Linked DNA regions of Homo sapiens. The protein of the gene in region 1 interacts with the protein of each later gene in a pairwise test. Each region holds a gene or a part of one and is shown on either strand. Other genes may lie near its edges.

Evidence for each region. Proteins that work in one complex are often made in the same cells at the same time.
Region 2: the proteins of STK25 (region 1) and GOLGA6L9 interact in binary tests that used the Homo sapiens proteins (3 or more experiments, as listed by UniProt).
Region 3: the proteins of STK25 (region 1) and CEP70 interact in binary tests that used the Homo sapiens proteins (3 or more experiments, as listed by UniProt).
Region 4: the proteins of STK25 (region 1) and GOLGA2 interact in binary tests that used the Homo sapiens proteins (3 or more experiments, as listed by UniProt).

What each region holds. Positions count from the first base shown.
Region 1 is NC_000002.12:241,501,440-241,506,939, reverse strand, and holds part of STK25 (serine/threonine-protein kinase 25), read left to right. Parts: intron 1-5,231; coding exon 5,232-5,462; intron 5,463-5,500. UniProt on the Homo sapiens protein: Oxidant stress-activated serine/threonine kinase that may play a role in the response to environmental stress.
Region 2 is NC_000015.10:82,435,805-82,439,653, forward strand, and holds the end of GOLGA6L9 (golgin subfamily A member 6-like protein 9), read left to right. Parts: intron 1-162; coding exon 163-265; intron 266-474; coding exon 475-607; 3' UTR 608-3,349; downstream 3,350-3,849.
Region 3 is NC_000003.12:138,500,261-138,504,190, forward strand, and holds part of CEP70 (centrosomal protein of 70 kDa), read right to left. Parts: intron 3,618-3,930; coding exon of another isoform or gene 3,576-3,617; exon of another isoform or gene 990-3,575; intron 622-989; coding exon 475-621; intron 308-474; coding exon 139-307; intron 1-138.
Region 4 is NC_000009.12:128,266,008-128,269,937, forward strand, and holds part of GOLGA2 (golgin subfamily A member 2), read right to left. Parts: intron 2,518-3,930; coding exon 2,413-2,517; intron 2,154-2,412; coding exon 2,110-2,153; intron 1,991-2,109; coding exon 1,927-1,990; intron 1,511-1,926; coding exon 1,451-1,510; intron 1,268-1,450; coding exon 1,187-1,267; intron 319-1,186; coding exon 280-318; intron 14-279; coding exon 1-13. UniProt on the Homo sapiens protein: Peripheral membrane component of the cis-Golgi stack that acts as a membrane skeleton that maintains the structure of the Golgi apparatus, and as a vesicle thether that facilitates vesicle fusion to the Golgi membrane.

The sequences.
Region 1 (5,500 bases):
GGCAACCTGGACCTGCGTGGTCACAGATGAGACTGGGGCTTGCTGACTGTTGCTGAATTAAGCTAACAGATTTTTGGTTTGCTTTTGGCATTCTGTATCTGGTAACTTACATGACTAAGGTGCTGGGAGAAAAATCTGCCACCAGTTTATTTTACTTTATTTTTATTTTTTTGAGACGGAGTTTCGCTTTTGTTGCCCAGGTTGGAGTGCAATGGTGCAATCTCAGCTCACTGCACCCTCTGCCTCCCAAGTACAAGCGATTCTCCTGTCTTGGCCTCCCAAGTAGCTTGGATTACAGGCATGCGCCACCATGCCCAGCTAATTTTGTATTTTTAGTAGAGACGGAGTTTCACCATGTTGGTCAGGCTGGTCTCAAACTCCTGACCTCAGGTGATCTGCTTGCCCTGGCCTCCCAACGTGCTGGGATTACAGGCATGAGCCACCGCGCTCGGCCACCAGTTTATTTTTAAGAACTGCAGAAATAACTCCTTTGGGTCACAGGATGAGAAATTGGAGCTCCGAGGTGCCCTGTAACTGTGTGCTATTGGTTCTTGGTGCGATCGCACACAGGGAAGGGAGTGCGGGCACATTGGAGAAGGGATTCCAAAGGTAGGAAGCTCCTTTTGTCCTTTTAGGGATCCCTTTGTCCCAGCCTGGATGATGAGAGACTTGACTTCATATAGTGGCAGAAAACCTGAGGGGCTGTGGTTTTCTCCTGAGATGGTTGCCATGGTGTCCTGTGGACCTGTGGGGCAGCCCCTTTGTGGGAGAGTGGGGCGCGTTCCCCCCATAGCCTGTGCTCCTGCCTTAGACTTCTCCCCTCTACCTGGCCAGTTCCTGCCTGGCCCTGGAGGGCCCGAATGGCTGTGGGGTGCCAGAGCACTGTATCACCACTCAGCTATGTGTGCTGGGTCATTCCCCTTGTTTTGTGGGGCAACACTGACAGCAGACACATTGGCAAGTGGAGGCCCCAGACCTGGCAGCCCCAGGGCTAATGTGGAGAACAGGTGTCCACCGCTCGAGTCAGCTGAGTGGCCCGAGTGATCATCCAGGCCACAGCTGCTGCTACATCCAAAAGAGGATTCGCAGCCTCCAGGCCAGGGGCCCACTTACCCTTTCTTCTCCAGGTGGGGGTGGGGATGGCTTGCCTTGGCTTGGCCTGCGATGTCATTGTAGGGCCAGGATCACAGCCAAGAGGGTTCCTGTCACACAGTTTCTGCTTGGGCTGATGAGCCCTGGCTCTGGCTTAGGGGTCCGCTGTGCTCCCCTGCTGTGAAGCAGTAGAGGTCTGAGTGCCCACCCAGGGGTTTCCCTACCGGGGCTGCTGTGATGGAGCAGATTCAGCTCCAGGCCCTGTGTGGAGAGCAGCATGGCCTCAGCAGGGAGCAGGGAGTAGAGCAGGGCGGGAGGACGCGTCATCCAGAGAGGCCTGAAGAGTCGGAGGGGTGGTGGTGCTGGGTAATGCTGCCAGGTCATGGCCCTGCTTTCTCCAGGCCCTCTCTCAGGCCACCTTAGACAGGAGTAGATGGGAGGACACAAGCTCAGGGCACCAACAGACCTCTGGAATCCCCAGGAGGACTCCCTTGGGGTCTTTCCGGGTGCTTGGGCAGGGTTGGGTTGAGGCTGAGGCCAGGCCTACAGGCTAACGGCTCGGTGGAGCAGCGTCCCAGGGCCCCGAGTAAGCGTTGATGGGCTGAGCAAACAGGGAGGATTTGACAAGGTGGCGTTGGGCCTGCTGGAGGAGGAGCAGGCAGAAGAGGGGCTGCTTCTGCAGATCACCTGAGGTCAGGAGTTCGAGACTAGCCTGGCCAACATGGTGAAACCCTGTCTCTACAAAAATTCAAAAAAAAAAAAAATTAACGGGGCATGATGGCGGGTGCCTGTAAGTCCGGCTACTCGGGAGGCTGAGGTGGAAGAATCGCTTGAACCTGGGAGGCGGAGGTTGCAGTGAGCCGAGATCACGCCACTGCACTCCAGCCTGGGCAACAGAGTGAGACTCTATCTCAAAAAAAAAAAGAAAAAGAAGAGGGGCTGCTTCTTAACCTTGTCCTGCACCTGGCATCCAGGACTGGGCTAGGAACGGGTGGTCCTCCACCAGAAATGGAGCAAACAGGGAGGAGGAAACGGAGATGATGCTCTCTATGGCAGGAGGGTGATATTTTAACACTGACTGCTTACCTATGACAGCCAGTGGGCTGATGAGCTTATGCTTTGACATGCACTTGTGGGCCCAGCTACTCAGGAGGCTGAGGAGACCAGCCTGGGCACACAGCGAGACCCCCCATCTCAAAAAAAGATTGCATGTTCTGGGTTGACTTTCCTTTCAGATAGGGGCTGGTTCTCACCTCATCTGTGCCACCCACCCTCAACCCGGAGACAGCTGAGCACCTGTGACTTGTCAGCTTTGAATTTTTCCTGGCTTCTCTTTAGAACACATGGTCAGCAGCAGTGATGGGGCTGGGGGCAGACACAGCTCACCTTGACCGGAATGACCCCAGGCAGTACTCAGCTCTCTCTATCCTGCCGAGTTTCTTGACCTTGGCTTTGGGGACTCCTGGTAGCAGGTGGGCTCAAGGCACCCCCTGCTGTTTCCTCCATGGGTACTGGCTTTAGGACTGGGCTGCTGTACTGATGAGAGAATGAGAAAGGTCACTTTTGACTCGACCAGCTGTCTCAACTGGCCAGACCTTTGGGCTAAGCAAGGGTCTGTGTGTACACTGCAGCTGGCCTGCTCTAGCTGCTGCATGGAGGCCACCTGCACACCCCCGGGCCTTGACAAGCCAGCCTTGCAGGGAAAGGTTAGGTGGCCTCTGGCCCTCCCCTAACTGCCTTTCCTTCCCCAGAGTTCCAGTCACCTCGAGGTCTGGCACTCAAAAAGGGATGTGCAGCGGCATGTTTCAAGGTGGGGGCCTGTGTGCCGCCCCTTCCACCCTCCTGGTTAGGAACCCTGGGAGGTCAGCTAATTGGCAGTTTCACACGGAAGTGTCGCCTCAGGCTGGTGCGATGTCCAGTTGGCTTCAGCCAGCTCCTCCGCTGGGCTTAGGCCTGGGGTGGACCCAGCACACAGGTGTCCAGGGGGTGAGTGTGAGGGCTGTGTGTGGTGTACCCCATCCTTCTTGGTGGGCACGGTCTCCGCAGGCCCAGGAACGTGCAGGGCACCCCCACCCAAGGACCTGTCCTGTCTTCAGTGTTTTTTTTTGTGGCATAATTAGTCGTTTTGCCTTTTTTTTTTTTTTTTTTTTTGAGACGGAGTCTTGCTCTGTCGCCCAGGCTGGAGTGCAGTGGCACGATCTCCGCCTCCTGGGTTCATGATATTATCCTGCCTCAGCCTCCCGAGTAGCTGGGACTGCAGGCGCCCACCACCACACCCGGCTAATTTTTTGTATTTTTTAGTAGAGACGGGGTTTCACCATGTTAGCCAGGGTGGTCTTGATCTCCTGACCTCGTGATCTGCCCGCCTCGGCCTCCCAAAGTGTTGGGATTACAGGCGTGAACCACCGCGCCCAGGCTGTTTTGCCTTTTTATGCTCTGCCACACTAAATTGGCATCAAGACCCTTGATGTTGTTAGGGGAGGGGCCGTGCGTGGTGGCTCACGCCTGTAATCCCAGCACTTTGGGAGGCTGAGATGGGCAGATCACCTGAAGTCAGGAGTTCGAGACCAGCCTGGCCAACATGGTGAAACCTTATCTCTACTAAAAATACAAAAAATTAACTGGGAGTGGTGGTGCATGCCTGTAATTCCAGCTACTTGGGAGGCTGAGGCAGAAGAATCGCTTGAACCCAGGAGGCAGAGGTTGCAGTGAGCCAAGATTGCACCACTACACTCCAGCCTGGGTGACAGAGTGAGAAGCCATCTCAAAAACATTTAAAAAAGGGTCGAGGCTTGAGGACACACCTCTGCTGGCTTCCCCTGGACTCTGGGCCTGGGCCACAGACCCCAGGCACCTTCCACACCACTGGCTCAGAAACTTTTAGGCATTGCTTCTTTAAATCTGAGGACTGTGTGAGGCAGCTTTCTGCATCAAGAAAGCATCAAGTTTCTAACTCCGCGCTGGTGTAGCTGTCAGGAGGACTTATGGAGGGGTGAGGGAAGCCCTTTCTAAATACGTGACTTTCAGGAGTGGAGGAGAACTTGGTTAACACATACTGAGGTTTTTTGTTTTTGATGAGGTTTTTTTTTTTAAATTTTTTATTTTTTTGAGACCTAGTTTCGCTCTTGTTGCCCAGGCTGGAGTGCGATGGTGCGATCTCGGCTCACCGCAACCTCCGCTTCCCTGATTCAAGTGATTCTTCTGTCTTGGACTCTCAAGTAGCTCGGATCACAGGCATACGCAACCTCGCCCGGCTAATTTTTTTTGTATTCAGTAGAGATGGGGTTTTACCATGTTAGTCAGGCTGGTTGCGAACTCCTGACTTCAGGTGATCAACCCGCCTTGGCCTCCCAGAGTGCTGGGATTTCAGGTGTGCACCACCAAGCCTGGCCTGATGAGTTTATTTTTTAGTAATTTCAGATTTATAACAAATTAAGTAAGAGCTCCCAAATCCCCCCTCACCCCCAGGGGCCATTCACCTATTAACATCTGTCACGGGGCTGGCATGTTGTTCGGGTTAGATGAGGCAACCTTCATGCCGTGTCATCACCTAAAGCTCCTGTTTCCAGCAGGGTTCATCGAGTTGGCCTGGCCTCTTTATACTTTCTGGGGACTTTTTCCCTTGCATGGAAAGTTCAGTTTAGGTTTTTTTGTTGTTGTTATTTGTTTGTTTGTTTGTTTTTTTAATGGAGTTTGATTCTTGTTGCCCAGGTTGGAGTGCAATGGTGCGGTCTTGGCTCACTGCAACCTCCGCCTCCCGGGTTCAAGCAATTCTCCTGCCTCAGCCTCCTGAGTAGCTGGGATTACAGGCATGAGCCGCCACGCCCAGATAATTTTTTTGTATTAGAGATGGGGTTTCACCATGCTGGCCAGGCTGGTCTCGAACTCCTGACCTCAAGTGATCCACCTGCCTCGGCCTCCCAAAGTGCTAGAATTACAGGCGTGAGCCACCACGCCCGGCCAAGTTTAGTTTTTGAACAAAAAGGGAGAAAGGAAGAAACCAGAGAAGAATTGAGGTGCGCTCCCTTGGACTCCCCCTTCCCTACAGGTCCCTTCCTCCCCAGCAGGGCAGCCTCTGCCTGTCCCCCGCCTCTTGTGACCGGCGCTGTCTGCCCTCTGTCCCCGCCCTGGCCCCACAGCACTCTCGAGTGGACCCTGAGGAGCTCTTCACCAAGCTCGACCGCATTGGCAAGGGCTCGTTTGGGGAGGTCTACAAGGGCATCGATAACCACACAAAGGAGGTGGTGGCCATCAAGATCATCGACCTGGAGGAGGCCGAGGATGAGATCGAGGACATCCAGCAGGAGATCACTGTCCTCAGTCAGTGCGACAGCCCCTACATCACCCGCTACTTTGGCTCCTACCTAAAGGTGCCTGTTGTGGGGAGGCGGGGACCCTGCTGGTGCTG
Region 2 (3,849 bases), on another chromosome or scaffold:
GCATGGGGTTCTAAGCAAGGGAGACAGTCTCTTAGGCCTGGAGCAAGGGGCCAGGGGCCTGGGCAGGCCACAGAGCCCCACAGTGCCCTCGCTACCCTATTAATGGGCCAGGAATCTGGAAGCCAGCCACCACATGTCCTCATGCCCAGGGTCTTCCGGCAGGTGGAGCTGAAGAGCCAAGAGGCTCCGAGTCTGCAGCAGCAGCCAGACCAGTAGCTGGAGCCCCAGTCCCACAAGGAGCTTGGATGTGCGGACAAGCAGGGTGGTGAGTAGAGCCCTCAGGCGGGGTGGGCAGGCAGGAGCAGGGGAGGCTCGCACTGTGCCCAGATTCCCACCCCCTCCCTCTCTCTGAAGATCTTAGTGAGCTGAGCCTCACTGATAGCATGGAGGCTGCACCGGGAGAGGACAGGGAGGGTTCTCCCCCATGACAACCCCACTGCACAGCAGATCCAGCAGCTGCTTCCTCTAATGCAGGACTCCCCAGGAGCACCCAGGCTTGAGTGGAGAAGCTGTTGGTACAGGAGAGGCGGCAGGAGGAGCAGGAGAGGCTGCATGCCATTCTTTTCGGGCTGCCGAGAACAGGGAGCTAAACATCACCATCATCTAAGAGCGGGTCAAGAAATTGAAAAAAAAAAACAAAACATTTAAGGGGTTAATATCCTACACAATTCATTTACTTCATTTGAATGTTAGAGCCACTTATGTTTGTGTTTCTAATTTATAGTTTAAATTTATTTGTGTTTCTAATTTATAGTTTAAATTTATTTGTTTCTAATTTATAGTTTAAATTTATTTGTGTTTCTAATTTATAGTTTAAATTTATTTTTGTTTCTAATTTATAATTTAAATTTATTTGTAAAAAGTTAAATGAGAGTGGGTCTTTCTCTCATGTTCACTCTGGCATCTTTTAGCATTTCTTTAATTTGATAATTATAGGACGTTAGCATGCATATCGAGTTTGCCCTTATGTGGTGGGAGTTCAAACACACAAAGACCCACTGTATGCACACAACTGTTCTTGCTGGTTTGGGATAGGCTGCCATGCTTTTTTAATGTTAGTACAGCCTGTATATTCATTACGGAATTCAGATAAAATTTCCTTATGTTCTGCTGTTATGTTTGATCGAATCCTAATCACAGTGAGCTCTTCATTAGCTCAATATGTGGTTTGCCCTCTGGAAACAGCCTTTCCCCCTTTTTCTGTGTATTGGGGATGGGAGTAATAACATTTTGGGGAGGTTTTTAAATCTCCCAGAAGAGGAAAGTGGCCTGCTTTGGCAGGTGTGTGCAGGATAGAATATGTTTCATTTGTTCCGGTGCCAAGAATGAGCGCTGTACTACGGTAGTTCCCTTAGGATTTGTATGTGCTCTAGGCTCATGAAGATACTGCCTCATGAGCTGTGGCAGTTGTACTCTTTTTTGATGACCTGAAAAGGGATTATTTCTGAGGAATGAAAGGCTCCCATCATGACTGTGGATGTGGAAAACCTTTTCTAGCTGAGAGCATTTATATCTACAATACATTTTAAAGTCAGAGTTCATGTTCCCTGTTTTAATCACATGACTACATGTCCCAGTACACAAAAGGGCACTGGTTGGCGTTCTCCTTAATGTATTTAGTAAAGATCAGAAGAAATCCTTTAAGAGTTTAAATGCCCCTGGAACAGGCATATACAGGCTCTAGTCAAGAATGAATTCGAGTGAAGGAAAGCTGTGTGACACCTGGCATTCCTCTGTGTTCATGGAGCTTATTTGAGGCTAGAAGATGGATTTTACCATCTAGACCTCTCTGGCTAATAGCTAGTCTTCAACCATCTGACATAGGAATTTACTTCTTTTCCTTGAATGGAGAACACTTTAAAAATAATAACAAACATTATTATAAACTAATATATGTGAGAGTACTTAGTTGAAACAAAAAGGAGTTTTAGTAGACAGTATTATACTACATTTGAAAATCAAGGAGCAGTTTATGCAACGTAAAACGTTTACAAACTGCAGCACAATCTACTGTTCGTGAATGTCAAAGTGTCATGAGGAAAGTGTCTATACAATCACAGAGTTATATTTCCTCACAAAGTTCTTTACAAAGAGTGAAATATGTTTTTATACCTCTCAGTTTCAGTTAGAGGCATATTTTGTGTAATATTTATGGCTTAAAATGGACTAAAGGTCCTGTTCTTGCCTTGTCTGAACTTGCCGCTTTTGCATTCTTTGAGTTCAGTTTAAAGACAGTTACTTTAAGCCCATTTTAAACCCTCAGGCTAGAAATCGTACCACTGTTAATTAGCCACATTATTTGGTCTAACAGTTTATCATTCTGAAACTGAGCTTACCTAATACATTGATAAATTATTTCAAAGGTATTTTTATAGTTCAAATCGCTTCACTTTTACCCTGACACGTATAAATGACTAGGAATGACCTTCAGATAGCATTTAGCAACTGTAACCAATCTGACAATAATGTGTTCATCAGGTACCTGTGGATTAAATCACATACTGGCATATTTAAGCTGAATGTCAGTCTGAAAAATAAATGTACTATATTAACTCAAATACCACTCTCTGTGTAGGTATTTTGTCATATGTTTAAGAAAAAGCTAAAGAGAATGGAAATCCTATGACAATAACTATGACAATAACTATGACAAGTCTTTCTTCAAAGTGCATGCAGTCTTTTGCAGTACCTCATTCAGCCAAGTATTTGTTCTCTACCTCATTCAGTATAAGGCAGCCTTTAATTTGCTTAGAAGGCAACATTAGAAGGTTAGAGTTCAGCAGGAACATAGAATTTTAAAATGTGACTTCAACTGAATAAATTTGAATTTCTGTAGGGAGTAAAGAATCAAAACACCTATTTAAAGACTGCAAAATATGATAATTATTTTTAAAGTAATTGATTAAACCTGGTAGGTTTTCCCAAAATGAAAAACAATCAGTTCTAAAACCAAAGCTGATTTTTAGAAAATGTGAAAATGTAAATCAACCCTATCCATAATAGATTCTCTAAAACTTTATCTTACAGTCACTTTCAAATAACTATTCAAAAATGTAACTGCTATATTAACGTCTTAAAATAATTTAAAACATTTTAAAATATGAATACTGTAGTTTAAAACAAAGAATCTAGGGGAAGGAAAAGTAGACAAAGAAATGCCAATTCCAGTCCAAAGCTGTATTTGCCAAGTTTTCTTAGAATGACTTTTACCGATTTATGAATTCTTATACACAGAATGCATAATGGAAATACTGATTTTTGTCTAAAGTGGCATTATTGACTGCTGCTGTGATGCTACTATAATGTAATACATTATTAAATTGTTTCAAGGTGCTGTTTTGCCTAAAAATTTTGTGTGTCTTGAAAACTATAGTACTGGGTATTGAGACTCTGCAAATTCTCGGCATGCTTGGCATGAGGTAATCGGTTTTTATTCTTACAAAATTGTAACTATGTAAGTGTGTTTATTAAAAGAACACAAACTAAAAAAGTTAACAGGAATTAAAGTTGTGGGATGAAAAAGTTACAGGATAAAAAAATACTGTGGAAAAGTGGCAAAAAAAAGTTGTGGAAAAAAAGTAAAAAAAAAGTTTTATGAAAAGTTATTTTAAAAAGTTATGAAAAATTAGTTACAGGATTTAAAAAAAGTCATGGGATAAAAATAAAAATAAATAAAAGCAGGCCCCTGTCAGCATAAGCCTGGAGAAGTGGGTCTGGAGTCTTCACCCCCACCATGTCCCTACAGCCCCTCCCCAGTCAGCCCTTTACCATTAGGGTAGCAAGACAAGACCCTTGTCTAATGGAGGGAGACAAACAGACCCTTTACCACCTTGACCAAGGCTGAGTCCT
Region 3 (3,930 bases), on another chromosome or scaffold:
ATTTCCAAAATTACATACATCAAACATTTTATGCTTCAGTTATCCTCAATTTTTCACTTAAACATTTTTTAATCTACTTTTTGTTAATTTATTAAAAATTCTTAAATGGGGGCCCAAAATGACAAATTAGGTCATCACCTAATTCTAAGAGTTCTTGGAGGTTTCTCACAGCATTGTTCATTTCTCCAAGCCTAGTATAAACTTCATTCATTCGGGGATAGACTCCATTTAAAGAAGGCACATCAAATAACTTTTGGAAGTGAGAAACAATAGCTTGCAAAGTTTGAAAGTGTGGCATATTGCTGTCCTGTCCAAAAAAGAGGTAAAAAAGAAAGAGTTCATTATCTTAAAATAATCCCAAATAAAAACTTTTAAAAGACAAATAGAACTCTAGTAGAACAAATATCAATATCCACAATTTATCAGTTTTTGAGATAAGAAACATTAGAAGGTGACCGTTCATGTAGGTATTACCTTTTCCTTATTTTCAACTTCTTCCAGCATAGTATCTACTATAAACAACAAATCTTCAACTTTGATACCTTCATTTTCATCCTGCTTCTTCAAATTAAGCCAAGGTACCAGTTCTGCAGATAGTGTTTTCAAGGACTTATACAAATCCTTTATAACAAAAGAAACTATATGGTATTATTGATTTAAATAATTTCTATAGTAACATAATAGAACATAATTAGTAAAATTATAAGTTTTATATATTATATGTTTTATAAAATTAATAAAACATAATTACACAGGTTAAAAAAATATATATGTAACCATCATTTTTTTTAAATAAAAATACTACTACCAATTTAGAACAAGTCAGTTAAAATTAGGTTTCTCCAGGTAAACACAGGCTTTACAGAAAACATTATATATTGATTATTCTGAATCTGAGTGCTCTAAGTAATTTTATGTTATTTATTATTGTTCCATAATATTTCATTATTTTGAATTGTTGATACACAAAGAATAAACTTGCCCTTGAATTTTGGTTTTGAATATGTTATATAACAGCTTTATTGAGATGTAATTCATATACCATAAAATTTACCCTAAGTATACAATTCAGTAGTTTTAATATTTTCACACATGTACAAACATCAGCACTATCCAATTTCAGAACATATTCATTACTCCAAAAAGAAATCTCAGACCCACTAAGAGTCCTTCCTTCCCCATTTTCCCTTCCCTGCAGCTCCTAGGGTTAATCTCTAAACTATTTTCTGTTTCTATGGATTTGCCTATTCTAGGCATTTTGCATAAAGGGAATTATACAATAAGTAGTCTTTTATGAATGACGTCTCTCACTTAGCATAATGTTTTTAAGATTTATCCATGTTATAACATGTATCTCCAGGCAAGTTTTTAATGTGAAAGGTTCCCTAAATGTATTCTACATTATAATACTCCACTTAGTTTTCTTGGCCTAGTTGTGGTGCCCTAATTGATTTTAAACTGTGCACAATGGGCAAGGCTACTGAAAGTTTAGAGCTCTAGACTGATCAATCGACAAATATTTAGAATTCCTAGTCCGAAAATCTGAAATGCTCCAAAATCTGAAACTCTGAGCAACAACAGGACACTCAAAAGAAATGCTCATTGGAGCATTCTGAATTTCGGATTTTTGGATCAGTGATGCTCAAATGGCATATATTCTGCAAATACTCCAAAATCTGAAAAAATTCTTAATCAAAATACTTCTAGGCCCAAGCACTGTGGATAAGGGATACTCAATCCATATGTGTATGGCACAGCGCTTGGTCCTTTAGAACAACGCTGTCCAAAAGAAATGTAATGTGAGCCACAGTAATTTTAAGTTGTCTAGGGCCATAGTATGGAAAGTGAAAAGAAACATGTGATATTAACTGTACTAGTATATTTTATTTAACCCAATATATCCAAAATATTATCATTTCAATATAAAATCAATTATTTTAATTTTTCCCATACAAAGTCTTCTAAATCCAGTGTATATTTTACACTTATAACACATCTGAATTAGGACTAGCCACCTTTCAAGTGATCAATAACCACATGCAGCTAGAGGCTACCATACTAGACAGCACAGCTCTAGAGAACAGAAAGAAGTACAAGAAGTTCCTCCTTTTTCTAACTTATTTTAGTACTTCACTTGACACTCTCCACTTAAGGCTCAGACTTCACATATTGGTATCTTTAACCTTTCAATTGGTAGGAAGGCAGTTACTATTTTAGTAATTCATAGCAATAAATTCCATGTCAAATGAATGTTTTACAATCAATGCCACTAGAATTTGAAAAAAAAAAAAGTCAGCAAGTAACAGCATAATGATACCTTTATTAACCAATGCTCCAGGAACAAGGCACATTTATAAAGTAATCTATGGTAAAAAGCATACCCAATCTAATACATTTTTGCTTCAGAATAAAAGAGTATTACAAAGCTAAGAAGAAAAGATGTTCTGGTCTCCTAAGCAGTGACAGGATGGTTGTAGCACAGTCCATCAAGTAAGCTCTGAAAAATATAAGAGGGTCTCCTAGGTTCTTTACATTGCCCAGTTGTGGAGATGTAGAAGTACTACCATGAGCCAGCCTACCGTGTACGTCTGGCCTCTGAAGCACTGGAGAATAGCAAAGCAAAAGTATTCAAGAGTGTACTGGGTTGGGGAAAGCTACAACATCTGTAGTTCACCTTTCTTGGAAAGGCAGGAGGGAAAAGACACAAGGCTGGAGGCAGCTGGCTCCATGTCTTTCCCAGCCTTCTTTTCTTCCAATTTTTAAAACTAGTAAAATACCCATAAAATTCACCATCTTAACAATTTTTAAATGTAAGTTCAGTGTTAATATGTTCATAATGTTGTGCAACCAACATCACCATCCATCTCCATAATTCTTTTCATCTTGTAACACTGAAACTTTATACCCATTAAACAATAACTTCCCATTTCCCTCCTCCCTCTAGCCATCACCACTCTACTTTGTCTCTATGATTTTCACTAAGTATCTCATACAAGTGGAATCATATAAGTGGAATCTTCTTGTGACTGACTTATTTCACTTAGCATAATGTCCTCATAATGTTCACCCATGTTGCAAGGGTCAGAATTTCTTTCCTTTTAATGGCTGAATAATATTGCAATATATGTATATACCACATTTTGCTTATCCATTCATCCCTCAAACCTATCTTACTCTTTAAAGCCAAATTTAACCTGAGGGAAAAAACTAATCTGGGAAGATGGTTGTCCCAAACTTAGAGGTTGCTACATATCAAATAACCTTTGATATGAGGCCTCAGAGAATCTCATGTAGTTTCTTAATTTGGACCCTGAAACTGTAGTATTAATATCTGAAGCACTGCTCAAAATCCATGAGTTACTCCAATGGCAGAAGTAACTAATTCTTAATAATTTCTTCTTGGGTGTCCTCAGAATATTCTAATTATAAAGCGAATTCCTTGCCTCCTCCTCCTCCTCAGAAAACCATACAATAGCAAGAACTCACCACCATGGCAAAGCCCTTCTTGGGGGCTACAATCAGAGTGTTCTCTTTCTCCTCCAGACTCTAGAGCACAAGTTATCTGCATCATTCACTCAGAACTTCAACCGGTAATCTATTTTTATGTCACTCATTTCCTTTAACGATATAAATGATTACATTTTGTTTCATATTTTTTAGTATATTTTGTCTAATTAGTCTGAATCTTGTGTTCATCCCATAATGGCTTAGCATGATAAACGATCAATAACTATCCATTAGTGTGATTCTTCCCTTTGTCTTCTTCCTCTTCTAGTCTTTTCTTCTAGGAAGGCTAGGGCTTTTTCTAGTCCATCCCTTCTGAGATGAAGAAAGGTGGAGTCAGCACTGTTTCCTCCTACTGGGAGAACCCTCTGACAGGCAGTGATTGAGGAAATACCATGATTTACACTATTACTAATTATTTTACAC
Region 4 (3,930 bases), on another chromosome or scaffold:
ATTCTTTCTTTTCCTATAGGAAGAGGAAGACAGAGCTCTTACGAGGGGGAGGCAGAGACGGCACAGCAAGGGACATGCCCCCAGAATGCCACCAATGTCCCAGGACAGGCCCACCCATGGGACCAGGTTATCAGGGACCCTGTGGGGATGGGGTGGAATCTGGGGGGGTGAGCCTTCTTCCCCAGGCTGGGAGTGGGTGAGACGAGACTGAGGCCTCTACATTTGAATGCCCCCCAAACCCAGCAGTCATGTTGTGAGCAAACAAAGAAATCACGTTACTTCTTCCAACTGATCCGTAATTTCTTGGTTCTGTTGTTTCTGTGGGGAAGAGTCAAAGGAAGGTGACTGAGGGTGGCCCCCTCAACTCTATTCCCCAGACCAGGAACGGGTAGGCAGGGGCCAGGAATGGATTTTAAAGGCAAAGTTCTCAGACCCAATGGGAACACGAACTGGTAAACTCTCCTCAGGCTCTCAAGGAAAGGGGATTTGTGTCTTTGTTGGTTTTTGCCCACAGCCACAGAACTGAAAGTCTGAATCTCGATTCTCTTGAAAGGACAGTAACATAAACCTCTAGAGATGGAGTGTGAGAAAAGCCCACCCTCTGCCAGTTTGTGATTTAGAAAGGTGTAATCATTCAACAAACATTTGCTGAGCACACACAGGCCAGGTACGGTTCTTAATAGCAGGGATACCAGACAGAAAAAGACAGACAGGAGCCCTTGGCCCTGAGGTTTACATTCTAATGGGCCTTTAAATCTTGGACTCTCAGAGCTAAGAGACCTTTGATACTCTCTAACTCTACCTCCTCAGGAAATGCAAGCCCAAGGAGGAGAGGTGGCTTGTCCCAAATCAAAGAGCAAATTAAGGACTGAGTCAGGGCAGAAATACAGGGCTCCTGACAACCAGTCAGGCTAGCGCTTCCCCAAGAGGCAACAACCCCAGGGCGTGTGTGGCAAGGACTCGAGCAGGGGTGTCTAGAGAAGAGAGAGTAGGCAAAGAGGGCAGCAACAGAAGAGCCATGCTGCATGCTCCGTGCTCTGGGGTCCCTCCAGCTGAGGCCTGGGCCCCCCAGCTCCCCATTCGCCCTTGGCACCAGGGGCCCCCTGCCCCTTTCTTCAGGGTCCCAAGGGGAAACTGGAGCCCAGGATTAGCAGCATGGAATCAGGGGACCCCACTGGACTCTTACCAATTTCTCTATCGTGATATTGAGTTGTTTGTTTGTTACATAGCTGGAGTCCAGGGCTACCGCTAGCTGTTGGTACCGGCTCTGAGGCGCATGCAGAGAGGAGGAGTTGGAGGAGGATTGGGGGGAGAGGTAGAGAGAGCAATCATTAGGGTTGGGGGGTGTGTGGGCTGTCTCAGCTGGCAGAGGGGCACCCAGCCCCCGCTGTGGGAGGAGGTTGGAGGGCTGGCCTGCAGGGTCACTGGGCCACGGCCCAGGGCCTCTTACCTCCAGATCCTTCAGGTTAGCAGACGATGCAGGGCCCTCCCCATTGACACATGTCGCAGACTATAAGAGACGAGAGTGCACATGGAGATGTTCTGTCCCCTCAGTGTCTAAGCCCTCTAACTTCGTTTCTTCCCCAGCAATTGGCAACATTTTCTTTTCTAACTTGGACCCTCTGTCCCGTAACCCCTTTGTGCCAACTTCTCTCATGGTTCTTATTTCCCCACCATCCTTTCCTCCCGAGCAGCTCTCATCCAGTGCTTCTGCAGCAGGATACAATGATGCAACCAGTCATGGGGTCCAACTCCTTCATGTGCACAACTTCAAGGGAGAAGGCTCAGGGAAAAGGCGACTTCCTTAACATTGCCCAGCACATTGGCTGGTCCCAGGATCTTCCCTCTCTCTTGTGAATCCCTGCTTCAGTTTCTATCATAGTTCCCTTCCCCCCACCCCGCTCTCGGCCTCAGTTCCTGAGGTACCTCACAAACAAGACCATTGAGCTGTTGGGAGAGTTGTCGCAGGCTCTCGGTTGATGAGAAAGTCCTAGGGATGGAGACACAGGGGTCAGGGGTGCAGGTGGCTCAATGGGAAAGAAGGTCATGGGCAGTGGCCTCCCTGACTCTCTCAGCCTAGAGACTGCTGCCCCAACAGGAGACACTCACTTGGTTTCATCCATGAGATTAGGGACATTGTCAGCATCATGATTCTGTTTGGGAAGAAACGTGTGAGATGGTCATTCAATTTCTGGTAAGAATCACCCAGGATGGGGTGAGTCAAGCTCCCAAACTCATTCTAACAATCTTCAATCTCCCCAGGCCTCAAGGAAAAAAGCCCAGTCTGAGCCTTCCCCCGGCCCGGTCCCCAGGAAGGGCCCTTGACCCTAGGGAACAAGCTGCCTGTGAAAGGAGAAGATAATGCATAATAGGTACAGGAGGGCAGTGGGCAGAGGGGGAGGAGGCACGAACCTGAGATGCCGCCATGCTAGTGAGACTGGCACCAGGGGAAGGGACACCGCCAGGTAACACGGTGTCATCAGATGGTTGTAGAGTAGCAGCATTGTCCTTGGGTGTCTGTCACAGAACAGAGCAGGGGGTTAGGGGGCCATGCGGGAGAGGTGCCTCAGTACTATGAACACAAGGGTGTGGAACAGGTAGGACAGGTGTTGCTGCAGTCAGAGTGACAGTCACACATGCTAGGAGCCACTCAGGGGTGTGGATTGGTTGCCCAGGCCTTGGGCTGCTAGGCAGCATTTCAGATGGCCAAAGCTCAAAGCAGGGGCTGCACGGCCTCCTTCATGAACACGAGGACCTCGCTCTCCCTGGAGCTCAGCAAAAGACAGCAGCAGGCTCTGACCTGTGGCAGCCACAGCAGGCAGGAGGAAGGTGTGCCAAAGTCAGGGAGGAGAAAGGCACTGTTCTTCCAGAAGGCCAGTCTGTGCTGCAGAGTGACCCTCACTGGGCCCCTACTGGGCAGAGGATGGTGATGAGGAAGTAGTTGTCTGGGCAATGCACAATGTAGCTATCTGCCTGTCTCCTCCTTTCCTCCCTTCCCTTCTCCCCTGCAGTGGCACAATCATAGTTCACTGCAGCTTCCACCTCCTGGGCTCAAGCAATGCTCCCACCTCAGCCTCCCTAGTAGCTGAGATTATAGGTGCACACTACCATGCTCAGCTAATTTCTATAGAAACATGGTCTTGCCATCTTGCCCAGGCTGGTCTCAAAGTCCTGGGCTCAAGTGATCCACCTTGGTCTCCCAAAATGTTGAGATTACAGGTGTGAGCCATTGCACTTGGCCTACTGGCTGTGTTTCTGATTCAGGCCTTTTCAGGGGGAAAAAAAAAAAGCTGCCCAACTAGAAGACTCTCTCCAACTCTCTGGAGGTAAAAAGAGGATAAACCATGGCCAACACCCCCACCCCGACCTCTTACCTCCAAAAACATCTACCCAGCCAAGAAACCACCCAAGAAAACAGAGGTAAGACATCTTCCCTGTGGCTCTTGGCAACTTGGAAGTTGTAGGGCCTCTTTCCTGGGAATAGTACCTGAGGACAATCCTAGGATTCAGAACTTGGGGTCATGTGGAGCCTCTCCCTTGCCCCCAACTGGACCTACCTGCTTGATCAGAGCCCCACCCAGCCTCTCTCCAGGCTCTGACCTTACTCTTCGCCCAAGCCTCTGGTTCTAGAGATCTTCTAATATCTGACAAGCCAGATGGGCAGACAGTGGAAAAAGCTGGCTGACCAGCTAAGCTGGACAAGAGAAAAACACCAGGGAGCCAGGGCCTGGCCACGGAAGCTGGGTCTGGGAGAAGTGACTACACCTCTCTCCAGGGAAAGGACTGCGCGCTCACTGGACCCTTCAGCCCTGGCTTCTGAAAACCCAAATCTGCTTCCCTCCTTAGAGCAAGTGCTGCAGAGGCTGGTGGAACTGAAGATGAGCCAAGCTGCCTTTGCATCTTTGCAAGTTTACTGTGACCATGGAACCT